2 separate regions of the Homo sapiens genome follow, and region 2 is linked to region 1. Evidence: fine-mapped expression QTL. A gene starts in region 1. The other region holds a variant in brackets. All regions are shown on one strand. Distances are from middle to middle.

Region 1 (8,346 bases):
GGCAACCATTAACCTAGTTTCTGTTTCTATAGATTTGCCTATTCTGGGAATTTCATATAAATAGAATCACACATTATGTGGTCTTTTGTGACAGGCTTCTTTTAGTTAGCATAATAATTTCAAGATCATCAGGTTGTAACATGCATCAATACTTGTCATTGTACCTTTTTATTATCAAATAATATTCCATTGCTTACTTATCCATTTATCAGTTGATGGACATTTTGGCCATTGTCTTTTAAATCCTATAAAATGCGTTACTTGTATAATTAAAAAAAAAACTAATTTTAAAATATGACTCCTAATTTCATGCTGAGCTAAAATCCCCCCTACTCCAGAAGTCTGGATTTAATAAACTTTAAAGGTTCATTTAGATTCAATAGAGCCTTTGTTATACTGCAGAAGTGATGTAACTGATCAAGTATACTGGGTAAAAAGAAAAATTGCGGCTGGGCGCGGTGGCTCATGCCTGTAATCCCAGCACTTTGGGAGGCCGAGGCGGGCAGATCACGAGGTCAGGAGATCGAGACCATCCTGGCTAACACGGTGAAACCCCGTCTCTACTAAAAAATACAAAAAAAATTAGCCGGGCGTGGTGGCGGGTGCCTGTAGTCCCAGCTACTCGGGAGGCTGAGGCAGGAGAATGGCTGGAACCCGGGAGGCGGAGCTTGCAGTGAGCAGAGATCGCGCCACTGCACTCCAGCCTGGGAGACAGAGCAAGACTCCATTTCAACAACAACAACGACAACAAAAAAAAAAAAAAAAAGAAAGAAAAATTGCAGGTCTGTGCAGGTTTAAAATGGAAAGATGATAAAATAAGTTTTATATTTCTGATAAGATTATTTTGGTTTTGACCATTTGCCAAATGAACAGGGGTAGTGAGAGAGAGAGAGAGAGAGAGAGAGAGAGAGAGAGAGAGAGGGAGAGAGAGAGAGGGAATCACCACAAAGGTTTTCTGGTTCTAAATACGGCTCCATTTTACAAACAAGAACACTGGCTCAAAGAAGTAACTTGCCCATTTGTATCATTAAGTAATAGAGCTGGGAAATTACAACAGGTCTCTCTGGAACCCTGAGGCCTATGACCCCTTTTCTACAACACTGGGAAGAGAGTAGGCAACTGTTCTCTATTTCCCTGAGTATATATGGTATGTACATCTACATACAAGTAATCTAAAATCTCAACCCAAAAGTTGGGAAACAGAACCGGATTGTGAAGAGAAGCTACAGAATTACCTTTCTCAGGAATGATCTGTCCCTGACTCACTCAGAACAGCACAGGGGTTATTAGTATTGGCTATAGGATACTGGGTTTGAGGAAGGAAAAAAACGGGGATACTGGGTTTGAGCAAGTTACTGTTCCTACGCCTGCTTTCTCATCTGTATAATGGAGATAATAACAGAACCCACTTCACAGCGTTATTAAGAAGACTGAATGAGGCCGGGCGCGGTGGATCACGCCTGTAATCCAAGAACTTTGGGAGGCCGAGACGGGCGGATCACGAGGTCAGGAGATCGAGACCATCCTGGCTAACACGGTGAAACCCCGTCTCTACTAAAAATACAAAAAATTAGCCAGGCCTGGTGGCTGAGGCAGGAGAATGGCATGAACCCGGGAGGTGGAGCTTGCAGTGAGCCGAGATCGCACCACGGCACTCCAGCCTGAGTGACAGAGCGAGACTCCGTCTCAAAAAAAAGAAGACTGAATGAGTTAATTCATGGAATGCATTAATACAGTGCCAAACTCGTATTTAGTACTCAAAATAAATATTAACTATTGTATAATTATTACAGGAAGGAAAAATTACATATGTGTTAACCATACATATCACGTCCAATTAAGAATAGCACAGGAGAATATTTATGGACATGGAAAGTTGTTGACCACATTCTATTAAGCAAAAAAAAAAAAAAAAAAAAAAGTTACAAAACAGTAAAAATATCATTTTATGTGAAAAAAATCTACGTATAGTCACCATTTATCATCTAGAATTAAATTTACATAGTTAGAATGTGCCCGTATGCAGTTTCTCCATTCAATCTCGAGTGGACAATCAAGAAAAAAATTTGGCTTTTAAGTGAACTGTCCTGTCACAGACTTGGGATAGAGGATCCCTTAGCTGAAGACGTCACCACTTCTCACTTGGACTATTACAACAGCCTTCTGCATGTGGCCTAACCTTCTATCCCAATGCCAGCGTGACTTTTACAAATACAATCTTCCTGCTTAAGATCCTTCATGTATAGAATACAAGTTTCAAACATCCTTGTTGCCTAAGATCCTTCTGATTACTGTTCCTTTAACCCTTCTGGCATATCTCTTGCAAACAACCCGAAAGACAATTCACCTGCGTGCCCCTTTTCACTGCCTTCCCTACCTTTACGTGGGAAGCCCCGTCCTGCCTGTTTACCTGGTGAAATCATTCTTCCAAACTAAATTCTAAAGTGCCTTCCTAAACTTCCTCTTCTGTAATACCACAAGGTTGATCACAAAGCACTAGGGCTGTTTTCCTGTCTCTTACACATCAGCCTGTGAGGCCCTCAAAGTCGGGGAACTGGGCCCTATTCATCTTCCCACATGCACCGCCCAGATCAGTGCCGGGCAAAATGTATACTTAACCACCCAAACTTGGACAAGCTGGGTCAGATCTCGGGCACTCGGTTTTCCTTTCCTTAAAATGGAGCTCTTTACCCCCGCAGGATCTTAGGAGATTGATTAAATAAGGCTCTGCAATGTGTTTCCCGCTTACAGTAAGCCATAAACGCAAGTTTGGAAGCCTCAAGCCTAAGATTCTGATTCTGTCTCCGCGTCTAACTACTGTAGATGTGAGGCTCTGAACAAGTCGCTCACTCAAGGTCTGTTTCCTCATCTGTAAAGAGAATGGACCCACAGATGAACTGCAAGGCCCCACCCTAATTTATGAATGGATGGTTCCCAAAGGGGGTTCCGACTTTCCAGGAGTCCCACCATCCCCCACTTCTCCGACCCACGCGGTCCCGGCCGCTTCCTGCTTCCTGCCCCCCGCTCCCGCCGCGAGCGTAGCGTCTGCACCCACTAGAGTCCCAGGCTGGTCTCTGGGTCCCACCAAGTTTGCTCACCGGCTTCTCCTCGCCTCCCATCTTCCCTGAAGGACTGCTGGCCTTCTCCTCAAACATTGGCGAACGACGAAGCGATGAGAGAACCCGAAAGCGACGGCCTAGAGGAGAGGAGCCAAGAGGCGGGTGGGAGGTGGGCTAGCGCCCGGGACTTGGCCTCGGCTGGACCAGCTGATGCAATCGAAAGGCGCCCTAACCCCGCCCCCAACTTGCGGCGGAACGAGCAGCCAATGGATAACGGGGGAAGGCGGGCCCTCCCTCCTCTAAGCCAGTGGAAAATCTTTTCGGGTGACAGAGCCCTTCTAGGAAATCAGGTCGCGGAGGGTGAGGAGGAGCAACTGCAGAAGCTACATGCCTACTCTCCGCTGACCTTGGTCTGGACGCTTTCCAGAGTCAAGTCCCCAATGCGCGTGCGCCTTTCCTCCCTTCTGACTTTATGTGGAACAATCATGGACCTTCCCGGACACCGTAGATAATAAGTAGGTCTTGGTCTAAACTTCCGGGAAGTTTTCGGCGACCTGGATACCATCTTCGACACGGGGACAAATCCCGGGATGGAGTCCAGGGTTTCCCGCGGCTTCGGCGCTTCCTGACCTGGCGTGACTGCCGACTTGTCGGCACCACCCAGGCCTCAGGCTCCCTGTCTGTAGTGGTGAATCGACCTTCCTCATGGCAGTCCAGGCTTCCCAAGCCCCATGTCCTGTTGATCCGGGACAAACTCTTCCTTGAACGTTCTTCACTACGAGCCGCTGCTGATCTGTACTGCCTGGAGGAGCATTTCCATAGCGCCCGCAAAAATACAATAAAGCTCACCCAAGGAAATAACCATGGATTCTCACGCCTGGGTGCCAGTGTTTGGAATCGACTGGGCTTTTTTATGTTAGTAGGCAATTTAAAACAATTACTTATTTGAAATCAGAAGCGCAATAGGCATAACTTCAGGTACGTGCTCCACCACCACGTTTTGTGGATTTTTCTTTTTAAACATCAGTTCTGTTCTCTACAACTCTCCGCCTTCAGGGTTATACTTTCCAGGAACAATAGCTTCCCAATTCGGCTTTGTGCATCCATTTTTCATACAGCATCGTTGTAGTCTTCAAATACAAATATGATCACGGCAATCTGCTGAAAAATCTTTGGTGGCTTTCCCTTGCTCTTGGACAATCCCTGATTGTCCAAGTTTTCGGCTTCATCTCGTTCGCCCACCATACACTGAACTATAAACTGTAGTGGCTTTTTTTCCTCAGGTCTTCCCACAGACTAAGTACCAAGATTTTTCCACCCTACCCTCATCCGTGCTCATTCCGACACACTTTTTGCCTGTTTGACACCTCATTTATTGTCAGATTTCAAGAATCGTTTTCTTCGGGGAACCATTTCTTGACTCCCTTACTGGATGAAACAAGCCTCCCTGTTAAACAGTGTTGGAGGCGCAGAAACATACCCCCAAATAATGGCGTTTTGACATCTGAACTGAAGAAGCCTCAAGGTCCCACTCCCCTAAATCCCCACGCCATCTCTGCCAAAGCAAAGGATAAAGTTTAGACACATCACAAGGAACATAATTGTTTTTGTTGCCTCCCTGTAAGACCAAGAATGTAGTAATCACACCTGAGCAGACCCTTTCACAAGATGTTGTACAAATTAATGTGTTCCTGATACATTCATTCTCCTTTGTAATCCCTCAACAGAATTCCTCTTCTCCCTATCATAACCTGTGTCGCTGGGATTGTATCCACAAGCTTCTGAAGCCCTCTGAGGGGTGGGTAATCACGCTGTGATTCTTCCTGTGTATACACGTTAAGTAAATTTGTATGTTTTTTCTATTAATGTTCCTCATGTTAGTGATTTTCAGCCAAACCTCAGAGGGCCAAGGAGAAAGGTCCCCTTGGCGCTTACAATAGTGTCTGCTGGTAGTTTCATGTGGTTCTTGGTAGAACTTACCGGTTCAACTTGTTCTTTCACTATGTGTGTATTTAGAGCTAAGCAAGTTTACTATATATGTGTATATATATATATATATACACACACACACACATATACACATACGTATATGTATATACATATATTATATATATATATATGCACAGTAATGGTTCTGATCAGTTGGCCTAAGAGTACACCCTATGTGGGGCTTCACGTACTGCTACACTCACAGGCAGAATTGGGGGTTGTTTTTCTGTCCAGAGTGATTGATCCTGATTACAAGGGGACAAGCGGGTTTCTTCTACATAAAGGAGAATTTTGTCAAGAACCCAGGAGATTCACTGAGACCTTTTTTAGTACTTCCTTGTCTAATGTTTCGCTGTTGGAAAACTCTGGGAACCCAACAAAGACAAGGAAGGAAGGAAGGTTTGGGCTATCCTTCTAGGTAAAGAATCTAGTCTAGCGAGGTCCTGACAAAGGCTAAGGGTAACTTGAAAAGGTGCTAGGAGAACAGAGTTATGCAATATTAGCTACCTAATTTGCAGATTACATATATATGTATACACATATACATATGTGTGTGTGTGTGTGTGTGTGTGTATATATATATAACTGCTCTTTAGCTGACACCTTGATTTTAATAATAGTCCTTTTCTTTTCTTTTTTCTTTGAGATGAGGTCTTGCTCCATTACCCAGGCTGGAGTGCAGTGGCACAATCATAGCTCACTACAGACTCAAACTGCTGTACTCAAGCAGTCCTTCTGCCTCAGCTTCCCAAGTAGGTAGGACTGCAGGCACACACCACCACACCCAGTTAATTTTTTCTTATTTTTTATTCTATCTATCTATCCATTTATTTATTTTTGAGACAGAGTCTTGCTCTGTTGCCCAGGCTGGAGTGCAGTGGTGTGATCACAGCTCACTGCAGCCTTGATCTCCCAGGCTCAATTGATCCCCTCGCCACAGTCTCCTGAACAGCTGGGACTACAGGTGCACACCACCACGCTCGGCTAATATATATATTTTTTAATTTTTAGTAGACATGAGGTCTCACTATGTTACCCAGACTTGTCTCAAACTCCTGAGCTTAAGCTCTTCTCCTACCTTGCAAGTTTATAGTTTTTTTAAAATATATTTTATCTCCTTGATTGAAAACTTCACGAAAGCACACTTTGTGTATTTTTGCCAGCATCTGGAAGATGTAAACCTATCGCACAGCAGATGTTCAATAAATGTTGAGTGTTGAGACAAAACTTGCTTAATTTTTCAAGCAAGGTTTGGAAAATTACCTCTTTATTTGTATTATAAAAGAAGTCAAAACCCCTTTACTAACTAGATCTAGAAGAAAGTTTATGATGAGAGTAGATTATTAGTAGTGCTTGATATTCCAGGAGTTATGTACAATTTTAATAGGCTTAAATAGACCAAACTAACTCCCCACATTTAAATTAGAATGAGAATCAATAGGATCTAATCTTACCTTTTAATGTAAAACAATTTAATTATGCTCATTAGACACATTTGCCTGAATTGTATCTTAATTTTAACTAAGTATAATGAAAACCAGAGAGATCAAGATTCCTGAATTTGCTGGATGCAGAAAATGATAGGCTAACAATTATATTTAACTGCTATATAACATTGTTTCTAGCAGCTTCTCTTAACTCTTTGTTCTCTTTCAACTTTAAAAACAGTCCTCATTTAAGTATGGCAAAAAGAAAAAGCAGAAGGCGTTTCTTTTTTTAAATATATTTTTATTATACTTTAAGTTCTAGGGTACATGTGCACAACGTGCAGGTTTGTTACATATGTATACATGTGCCATGTTGGTGTGCTGCACCCATTAACTCGTCATTTACATTAGTTATATCTCCTAATGCTATCCCTCCCCCGTCCCCCAACCCCACAACAGGCCCCGGTGTGTGATGTTCCCCTTCCAGTGTCCAGGTGTTCCCATTGTTCAATTCCCACCTATGAGTGAGGACATGCGGTGTTTGGTTTTTTGTCCTTATGATAGTTTGCTGAGAATGATGGTTTCCAGCTTCATCCATGTCCCTACAAAGGACATGAACTCATCATTTTTTATGGCTGCATAGTATTCCATGGTGTATATGTGCCATATTTTCTTAATCCAGTCTATCATTGTTGGACATTTGGGTTGGTTCCAAGTCTTTGCTATTGTGAATAGTGCTGCAATAAACATACGTGTGCATGTGTCTTTATAGCAGCATGATTTATAATCCTTTGAGTATATACCCAGTAATGGGATGGCTGGGTCAAATGGTATTTCTAGTTCTAGATCCCTGAGGAATCGCCACACTGTCTTCCACAATGGTTGAACTAGTTTACAGTCCCACCAGCAGTATAAAAGTGTTCCTGTTTCTCCACGTCCTCTCCAGCACCTGATCTTTGACAAACCTGACAAAAACAAGAAATGGGGAAAGGATTTCCTATTTAACAAATGGTGCTGGGAAAACTGGCTAGCCATATGTAGAAAGCTGAAACTGGATCCCTTCCTTACACCTTATACAACAATTAATTCAAGATGGATTAAAGACTTAAATATTAGACCTAAAACCATAAAAACCCTAGAAGAAAACCTAGGCAATACCATTTAGGACATAGGCATGGGCAAGGACTTCATGTCTAAAAACACCAAAAGCAATGGCAACAAAAGCCAAAATTGACAAATGGGATCTCATTAAACTAAAGAGCTTCTGCACAGCAAAAGAAACTACCATCAGAGTGAACAGGCAACCTACAGAATGGGAGAAAATTTTTGCAATCTACTCATCTGGCAAAGGGCTAATATCCAGAATCTACAAAGAACTCAAACAAATTTACAAGAAGAAAACAACCCCATCAACAAATGGGCGAAGGATATGAACAGACACTTCTTAAAAGAAGACATTTTTGCAGCCAACAGACACATGAAAAAATGCTCATCATCACTTGCCATCAGAGAAATGCAAATCGAAACCACAATGAGATACCATCTGACACCAGTTAGAATGGTGATCATTAAAAAGTCAGGAAACAACAGGTGCAGAAGGCATTTCTAACAGGTTGACTGTGGTGCAGGAACATAGGGGAAGAATGTAATGAGTTGCTAGTGTGGGAACCTCGCAGAGGTATCCCTGTGGCACAGTGCCCTCTGGTGTTAGGAAGGTGTTCTTTCACTATGTGTTTAGAGCTAAGCAAAGATCACGGGAGCGTCCAACACATCTCAGACCTAAAGCACAAAACACTGTTATACAACTTTTGTGTATTTGCCAACAAAAAAAAACTTCTGATTTACTCCCAGTGTTATAATTTATGCCCACT
Region 2 (8,346 bases), 270 kb before region 1:
AGTGCTGAAATAGACATGGGGTGCAGGCATCCCTTTGACATACTGATTTCCTTTCCTTTGGATAAAAAGATATTAGTGGGGTTGCTGGATCATACGGTAGTTCTATTTTTAGTTTTTTGAGAAACGCTTATACTGTTTTCCATAGTGGCTTTGCATTTACATTGCATTTGCATTACATTTTGATTTACATTGCCAACAACAGTGTTTGAGAGTTCCTTTTCTTCCGCATCCTTGCCAGCATTTTGTGTGTGTGTGTGTTTTTGACAATAGCCTTCCTAACTGGGGTGAGATGATATCCCATCGACTCATCCTAAATTAGTTTAAAGGGGCTTTCCCCCTTCTTCAGCTGTAACATATAGGCAGCTGTAGGCTATTACTTTATCTCCTATTTATGGTTCCCCAATTTGTAAAACTCTCTAAAAGAAACACCAACTCCTGAAAGACTCTAATTGTTGAATTGTCCAGACTTTCAAATAAATACAAGTGGTATCACAAGCCCACATGAAGATTTCAGGTTCTTCCTGGAGGACAGGGGTCCAACCAAGACTACCATGCTCTTATCTGTAAAAGAAGGTTGGTGTCAGAAACGAGATCTTTAAGACTCTTACTCTGAATGATAATGACCAGAATAACTAGTTCTTACTGGGTTTTTTAATGTCTCCCAAATAGATTTATTTCTATTGACAGTAGATTCTTGTCATATAATCAGTCTGACTTGAAAATTAATCACATTTGCCTTTTACTCAGTAGTGGCAAGAACTAGAGCCAACTTTGTGGACTAACCAAACAAGTGAATCGACAGAATATGGTGACCCGTTTTTCTCATTAGTTTCATTAGTTTCAGTTTATTTTATCTTCTCCTCATCAATTTTTTTTTCTTGTCATCTCCTGATTTAAGTCATCTGGCCATCCTGTCTTTATTTGGAACCCACATTAGTTGTTTTGTGAAATAAAGCAGGCTATATATAAATCAAATGCCCATACTGGGTCCATTTCCAAATTTCTGTTTGTGATATCTTGTGGTTTTGAGGATTAAAAATGCTTTAAAACCAGCAATAAAAGGTTGTTCTAGCTTTTAAATATGTATTTTTAAAAGCTCTTGTTAAAACTTCTGAGAATGAAGGAGGAAGTTAAAACTAATGAGGAAGTTACTTTGTATGTTGGTGGTTTCTGTTTACTTGGTTCTGTTTTTGCTCCCTAGAACTTGATTTCCACAGCAGTGAGCTAACAGCACTCCTGCTATTGCTGACTGGGCATATCTACATACAAAAAATCTTGATAAAACAATGTGTGCTGAGGAGTGTAAGTATAGCTCCCTGACTGGCCCTTTTAATAATACTGATTGTTCCCTTTGTTGCATTTCACATTATGAACCAAACTCTAAGAACTGATTGGGAAACGTCTTCTTCTTTTCAGAAACATCCATTCAGAGGCTTAAGGCCTCAGATTCCTGGCCTTCCACAGTTACAGCTCCAGTGTGGAGTTTGTCCAGTATGTGTTTAAAATCAAGATGCAAATCCCTAACAAGTCCTAAATTTATTTTAAAATGTGGCCAAGCTATACAGAGTCTAGCCAAATCCCATATTCTGCCACTAGATGATTGCTATTGGATCTAGGCCATGACCCCATTGATTTTTTTACAGGCAACTTTGCAGCCCCAAAGCCAGATATTGAATCAAGGAAACCAAAGTCCCAGTGTTCAGGAGGACAGCATTGTACTAACCCATCTCAACCAGCTTCACCTCTTTGTACAAGAAGTACTCAAGAGGCTGAAGAGTTGTGAGGTTTGGGTGAAGAGGCCAAACTAGTTCATCTTTGCCAGTTTGTTATGTAGATCATCACAGCTTCTCACCTATGTCAGTGATTTTGCACTTAGCCTTGTCTCTATCTTTTACCTTGTCAAACCTCACCAACTCTTTTCTCCACCTCTGTCATTCCTAAAACCTATAGTAACTACTTCACTCAGTACCTTCAACTGAATCTCTGTGGCTTAGTGTTGCCAACGTATCCACCCCTGCAAGAGATAAATCTGCTGCAAAGATGAGGGTTTTATAACTTCCTTTTCACAACTTGCTGCTCTTCCTATCTATGCAGTTCTTCTCCCTGCCCAAGTTTCATTACTTGTCTATATTTGAAACCCACCTCGAAAGAGCATTGAAAGCATTTTACTTCTTGAGGGTGGTATGTGCTTTTGGGGGATATGTTGAGACCTTCTGCCATCATTCGAAGTCCTGATGCTGCCTTGGCTGTTAATTGACAGTGAGGTTTTTTATGTTTTCCAGCCAGTTTTTATTTGTTAGATCAATTATTAATAGTAATATTTAACATTTAGTAAGTATTTACGGTGTGCCTGCTACTGTTACATGTGGTTTATGCATCAAGTCATTTAATCCTCATCAGAATTTCGTTACATTCCAATATGTCTCCATTTTACAGATGAGTAAACTGAGGTAGAACAAAGCCAAGTAAGTTATACAAAGTCACTTAGGAGTTACTAAGAGATGGTACTAATTTGGCTTTGGAACTGTGCCCAAACATCATTCTATCCTGCCTTCACTGGTAACCTACTGCATCCTCAGAAAATATGGAAATACTATTCTTAAAATTACAAGCTCAAGTGTAAGAGGCTGAGCAGATATTTGAAGATTCCAAGTACAACTAATATTAAGTGATCAGTGATCTGCTTTCTGCACATATCCTTAGGGTCACTCCTTCTCTCCAGGATCCATTATATTCCCTGTGTTTAAGTAGTAATTGTATCTTTGAGTTTGAAAGACAATAAATTTGACAATTCTAACTCTAGACATTTTCAGAGAGAATATTGGAAGAGCGATGAGGGAAGCAATGATCATACTCATTTATTAACATTGATTGTACATATTTCTTCTTTGGGAGGATGTTGCTTGTGTGTTTGTTTACACAGTTCTGTCGTTTAAGAGAGTAACAGTAGGGAGTGGTGCCTGGAGCATCATGCAGTGAGTTTGGAAGGACACCAAAATCTGTTTGTGCTGTGTGTCCCCTGGGGTGTGAGACCTGACAGGGCCAGCTGCAGCCCTACAAGGCCTTTAATTTAGAATTTCCTGAGCCACTTATGGTTCCAAAATATTTCTTATGTGTTTCAAAATAATAATTGAAAAGGAAGTAAAAACAGCCAGTCAGCTGTAAAAATTGTATGATATCTAGCAACTGGGCTGGGTCACCGAGGGTGGACACCCCTGAGAGAAAT[A/C]AGTAACAGAGCCTTGGAAAGCACCATGTTAATTTGGATGGGGAGGTGGGGATGTGGCTGGAAGAGGAGAGGAGATTCAGGGTTCTGGGAGTAAGTTGAGTGGGGTTAGTCAGTCACTCTCTGGGTTGTGAGTTCTGTGTAAAAGGCATTGTTGAGGTCCCGAGCTGGTGATAAAGCTGGTCCAGGGGTAGGACATGGTATTTGAAAATGGTGGTGCTGAAAGTTGTTATTGGAATCTTCACTGCAAGAGAGAAGAAGAAGAAATGACCACATAATTTCCATTCTTATTTTTGCCATCCCTCAAGATGGTATATCATTTGGCCCTGCCTATCTGTGCAGGGGAGTCTCTTAGACCACTTGCCCCACATTCACTATGTCTCAACCAATCCTCTTTCTGAAAATTTTTAGTACTCATTAAGATTTTTCCTGCTATAGAAGTTCTATGCTTGCTCTTTTCTATGTTTGAAATATTATTTCTGTGTGTCTGCACATAGGCTTTTCGTCACTGAGGTCTCAACTTAAATGGCACACCCTCAAAGTGATGCTTCTAGATCATGCTATCTAAAATGCATTCTTCCCTACACTGTTGTTTAAGCAGTCTGTTCGTGTCTTCCACAGTGCATAGGACAACCTCTAACTTTTGAGAAGTGTGATTGTCTTACTTGTTTGTCGTAGGTCTTCACCATCAAATTCCAAGCTCCATGAGGCCAGGAGCCATGTCATTATTGCTCACTGATATCTTCTCCATTTCTAGTACAATGACTAGGTCATAGCAGATGCATAATAAATATTTGTTTCAAAGGGAGAGAGTGGCAAGAAGACTTGACAATTTGAGATCAGAAAATGGAGACGTGGTGAACCTCTAAAATGTGTTACGATTAGTTCCAGCCTACAACCTTGGCCTCCTTGACACCATGCTCCAGTGGTGGAAACTGCATTCAGGATCATTTTTACATGCAGATTCTTAGGCTGTCTTATATGGCAATGGTTGGAGGATAGACCTGAGTGAAGAAGCAGAAATTTTATCTGATTAGTGCCTTGGAAAACACTAACACGTTGCTGGAGCCTTCAGGAATTTTTATTTTCCAAATTTAAAACTCTAAAAATAGTTCTGAAATAATATAAGTTACTGATTCCTCCCATATAACACAACACTTTTTATGGAATGGTCATACCTAGCATATCTTTGGGTCACCGTAACAGTCCTGGGAAGGGACTAAGACACACAATTTTAAACCTATTTTGAAGATAAGGAATTGGCTTCGAAGAGTTTAAGTGATTGTAACCATTAACAAATAGCTGGAATTAGAATCTCGTACACTTGGTTTGCGTGGATTGCTTACTCTACTACATTTTTTCAGACAATATTTTATTTTTATATGTTATTTTCATGGTAGATTGGATTTTGACTTGTTTTTTTCTATTTTATTATTTTATTTTAATTTCTGGAATACATGTGCAGGTTTATTACATAGGTAAAAGTGTGCCATGGTGGTTTGCTGCAGCTTTCAACCCATCACCTAGGTATTAAGCGCAGCATGCATTAGCTACTTATCTTGATGTTTTCTCAACCCCCACATCCCCCCACAACAATCCCCCATGTGTGTTGTTCCCCTCCCTGGGTCCATGTGTTCCAAGTGTTCAGCTCCCACTTATAAGTGAGAACATGCAGTGTTTGGTTTTCTGTTCCTGCTTTAGTTTGCTGAGGATAATGGCTTCCAGTTCCATCCATGTCCCTGCAAAGGACATTATTTCATTCCTTTTTATGGCTGCATAGTATTCCATGGTGTATATGTACCACGTTTTCTTTATCCAGTCTATCATTGATGGGCATTTGGGTTGATTTCATATCTTTGCTATTGTGAATATAGTGCTGCAGTGAACATATGTGTGCATGTATCTTTATAATAGAATGATTTATATTCCTTTGGGTGTATACCCAGTAATGAGATTGCTCAGTCAAATGGTATTTCTGGTTCTAGGTCTTTGAGGAATCACCACACTGTCTTCCATAATGGTTGAACTAAGTTACATTCCTACCAACAGTGTAAAAGGGTTCCTATTTCTCCACAGCCTCACCAGCATCTGTTGTTTCTTGATTTTGTAATAATTACCATTATGACTGGCCTGAGATGGTATCTCATTGTGGTTTCGATTTGCATTTCTCTAATGATCAGTGATGTTGAGCTTTTTTTCATGTTTGTTGGCTGCATAAATGTCTTCTTTTGAGAAGTGTCTTCATGTTCTTTGCCCAATTTCTTCTTAATATGGTGAAGCATAGTATTCTTTTTTTGTTTGTTTTTGTTTTGTTTTGTTTTTTATTTGTTTTTTTATTTTTTATTTTTTAGTATACTTTAAGTTCTGGGATACATGTACAGAACGTGCAGGTTTGTTATATAGGTATACATGTGCCATGGTGGTTTGCTGCACACATCGACCCGTTATCTACATTAGATACTTCTCCTAATGCTATCCCTCTTCTTGTCCCCTACCCCCTGATAGGCCCTGGTGTGTGATGTTCTCCTCCCTGTGCCTATATGTTCTCATTATTCAACTCCCACTTATAAGTGAGAACATGTGGTGTTTGATTTTCTGTTCCTGTGTTAGTTTGCTGAGAATGATGGTTTCTAGCTTCATCCATGTCCCTGCAAAGGACATGAACTCATCCTTTTTTATGGCTGCATAGTATTCCATGGTGTATATGTGCCACATTTTCTTTATCCGGTTTATCATTGATAGGCACTTGGGTTGGTTCCAAGTCTATGCTATTGTGAATAGTGCTGCAGTAAATATATGTGTGCATGTGTCTTTATAGTAGAATGATTTATAATCCTTTGGGTATATACCCAGTAATGGGATTGCTGGGTCGAATGGTATTTCTGGTTCTAGATCCTTGAGGAATCTCCACACTGTCTTCCACAATGGTTGAACTAATTTACTCTCCCACCAACAGTGTAAAAACATTCCTATTCTCCACATTCTCTCCGGTGTCTGTTGTTTCCTGACTTTTTAATGATGGCCATTCTAACAGGCATGAGATGGTATCTCATTTTGGTTTTGATTTGCATTTCTCTAAAGACCAGTGATGATAAGCTTTTTATCATATGTTTATTGACTGCATAAATGTCTTCCTTTGAGAAGTGTTTGTTCATATCCTTTGCCCACTTTTTGATGGGGTTGTTTGTTTTTTTCTTGTAAATTTGTTTAAGTTCCTTGTAGATTCTGGATATTAGCCCTTTGTCAGATGGATAGATTGCAAAAATTTTCTCCCATTCTGTAGGTTGCCTGCTCATTCTGATGATAGTTTATTTTGCTGTGCAGAAGCTCTTAATTAGATCCCATTTGTCTATTTTGGCTTTTGTTGCAATTGCTTTTGGTGTTTTAGTCATGAAGACTTTGTCCATGCCTATGTTCTGAATGGTATTGCCTAGGTTTCTTCTAGAGTTTTTATGGTTTTAGGTCTTATGTTTAAGTCCTTCATCCATCTTGAGTTAATTTTTGTATAAAGTGTAAGGAAGGGGTCCAGTTTCAGTTTTCTGCATATGGCTAGCCAGTTTTCCCAACACCATTTATTAAATAGGGAATCCTTTCCCTATTGCTTGTTTTTCTCAGATTTGTCAAAGATCAGATGGTTGTAGATGTGTGGTGTTATTTCTGAGGCCTCTGTTGTGTTCCATTGGTCTACAGATCTGTTTTGGTACCAGTGCCATGCTGTTTTGGTAACTGTAGCCTTGTAATATAGTTTGAAGTCAGGTACCATGATGCCTCCAGCTTTGTTCTTTTTGCTTAGGATTGTCTTGGCTATATGGGTTCTTTTTTGGTTCCATATGAAATTTAAAGTAGTTTTTCCTAATTCTGTGAAGAAAGTCAGTGGTAGCTTGATGGCAATAACATTAAATCTATAAATTACTTTGGGCAGTATGGCCATTTTTACAATACTGATTCTTCCTATCCATGAGCATGGAATGTGTTTTCATTTATTTGTGTCTTCTCTTGTTTCCTTGAGCAGTGGTTTGTAGTTCTCCTTGAAGAGGTACTTCACATCCCTTGTAAGTTGGATTCTTAGGTATTTTATTTTCTTTGTAGCAGTTGCGAATGAGGGTTCACTCATGATTTGGTTATCTATTTGTCTATTATTGGTGTGTAGGAATGCTTGATTTTTGCACGTTGATTTTGTATCCTGAGACTTTGCTGAAGTTGCTTATCAGCTTAAGGTGTTTTTGGGCTGAGATGATGGGGTTTTCTAAATATCCAATCATGTCATCCACAAACAGAGACAATTTGACTTCCTGTCTTCCTATTTGAATATGCCTTATTTCTTTTTCTTGCTTGATTGCCCTGGCCAGAACTTCCAATACTATGCTGAATAGGAGTGGTGAGAAAGGGCATACTTGTCTTGTTCCAGTTTTCAAAGGGAATGCTTGCAGCTTTTGCCCATTCAGTATGATATTGGCTGTGGGTTTGTCATAAGTAGCTCTTATTATTTTGAGATATGTTCCATCAATACCTAGTTTATTGAGAGTTTTTAGCATGAAGGTGTGTTGACTTTTATCGAAGGCCTTTTCTGTATCTGTTGAGATAAACCAGCTAGCATCATAATGACACGATCAAATTCACACATAACAATATTAACCTTAAATGTAAACGGGCTAAATGCCCCAATTAAAAGAGAAAGACTGGCAAATTGGATAAAGAGTCAAGACCCATCGGTGTGCTGTATTCAGGAGGCCCATCTCATGTGCAAAGACACACATAGGCCCAAAATAAAGAGGGGTTGCAATCCTAGTCTCTGATTATACAGACTTTAAACCAACAAAGATCAAAAAAGACGAAGAAGGGCATTATGTTATGGTAAAGGGATCAATGCAACAAGAAGAGCTAACTATCCTAAATATATATGCACCCTATACAGGAACACTCAGAGTCATAAAATAAGTTCTTAGAGACCAACAAAGAGACTTAGACTCCCACACAATAATAGTGGGGGACTTTAACACCCCACTGTCAATATTAGATCAACAAGACAGAAAATTAACAAGGATATTCAGGACTTGAACTCAGCTCTGGGCCAAGCATCTCATGAGAGTTCATGAGATGAAGGGGGAAGGGAACAGTATTCC

The links.
Region 2: its variant is fine-mapped to the expression of TARS1 in whole blood (INTERVAL, PIP 0.96).

Annotation. Positions count from the first base shown.
Region 1 is chr5:33,435,896-33,444,241 of GRCh38, reverse strand. It overlaps TARS1 (threonyl-tRNA synthetase 1), which reads right to left and starts at 3,277. Exons shown (of 19, transcript NM_152295.5): 1 at 3,099-3,277. The coding sequence starts at 3,155. TARS1-DT (TARS1 divergent transcript) reads left to right here and starts at 3,608. Exons shown (of 3, transcript XR_001742630.2): 1 at 3,608-4,037. RefSeq lists enhancers at 2,169-2,755, 2,770-2,829, 3,090-3,279, 3,380-3,689, 3,344-3,931 and a silencer at 8,216-8,265.
Region 2 is chr5:33,706,172-33,714,517 of GRCh38, reverse strand. All of the region lies in intron 3 of ADAMTS12 (ADAM metallopeptidase with thrombospondin type 1 motif 12), which reads left to right. Among named protein-coding and RNA genes, the nearest start is that of ADAMTS12, 180 kb to the left of the region's middle. The variant A/C (reference allele first, on the strand shown) is at 3,227.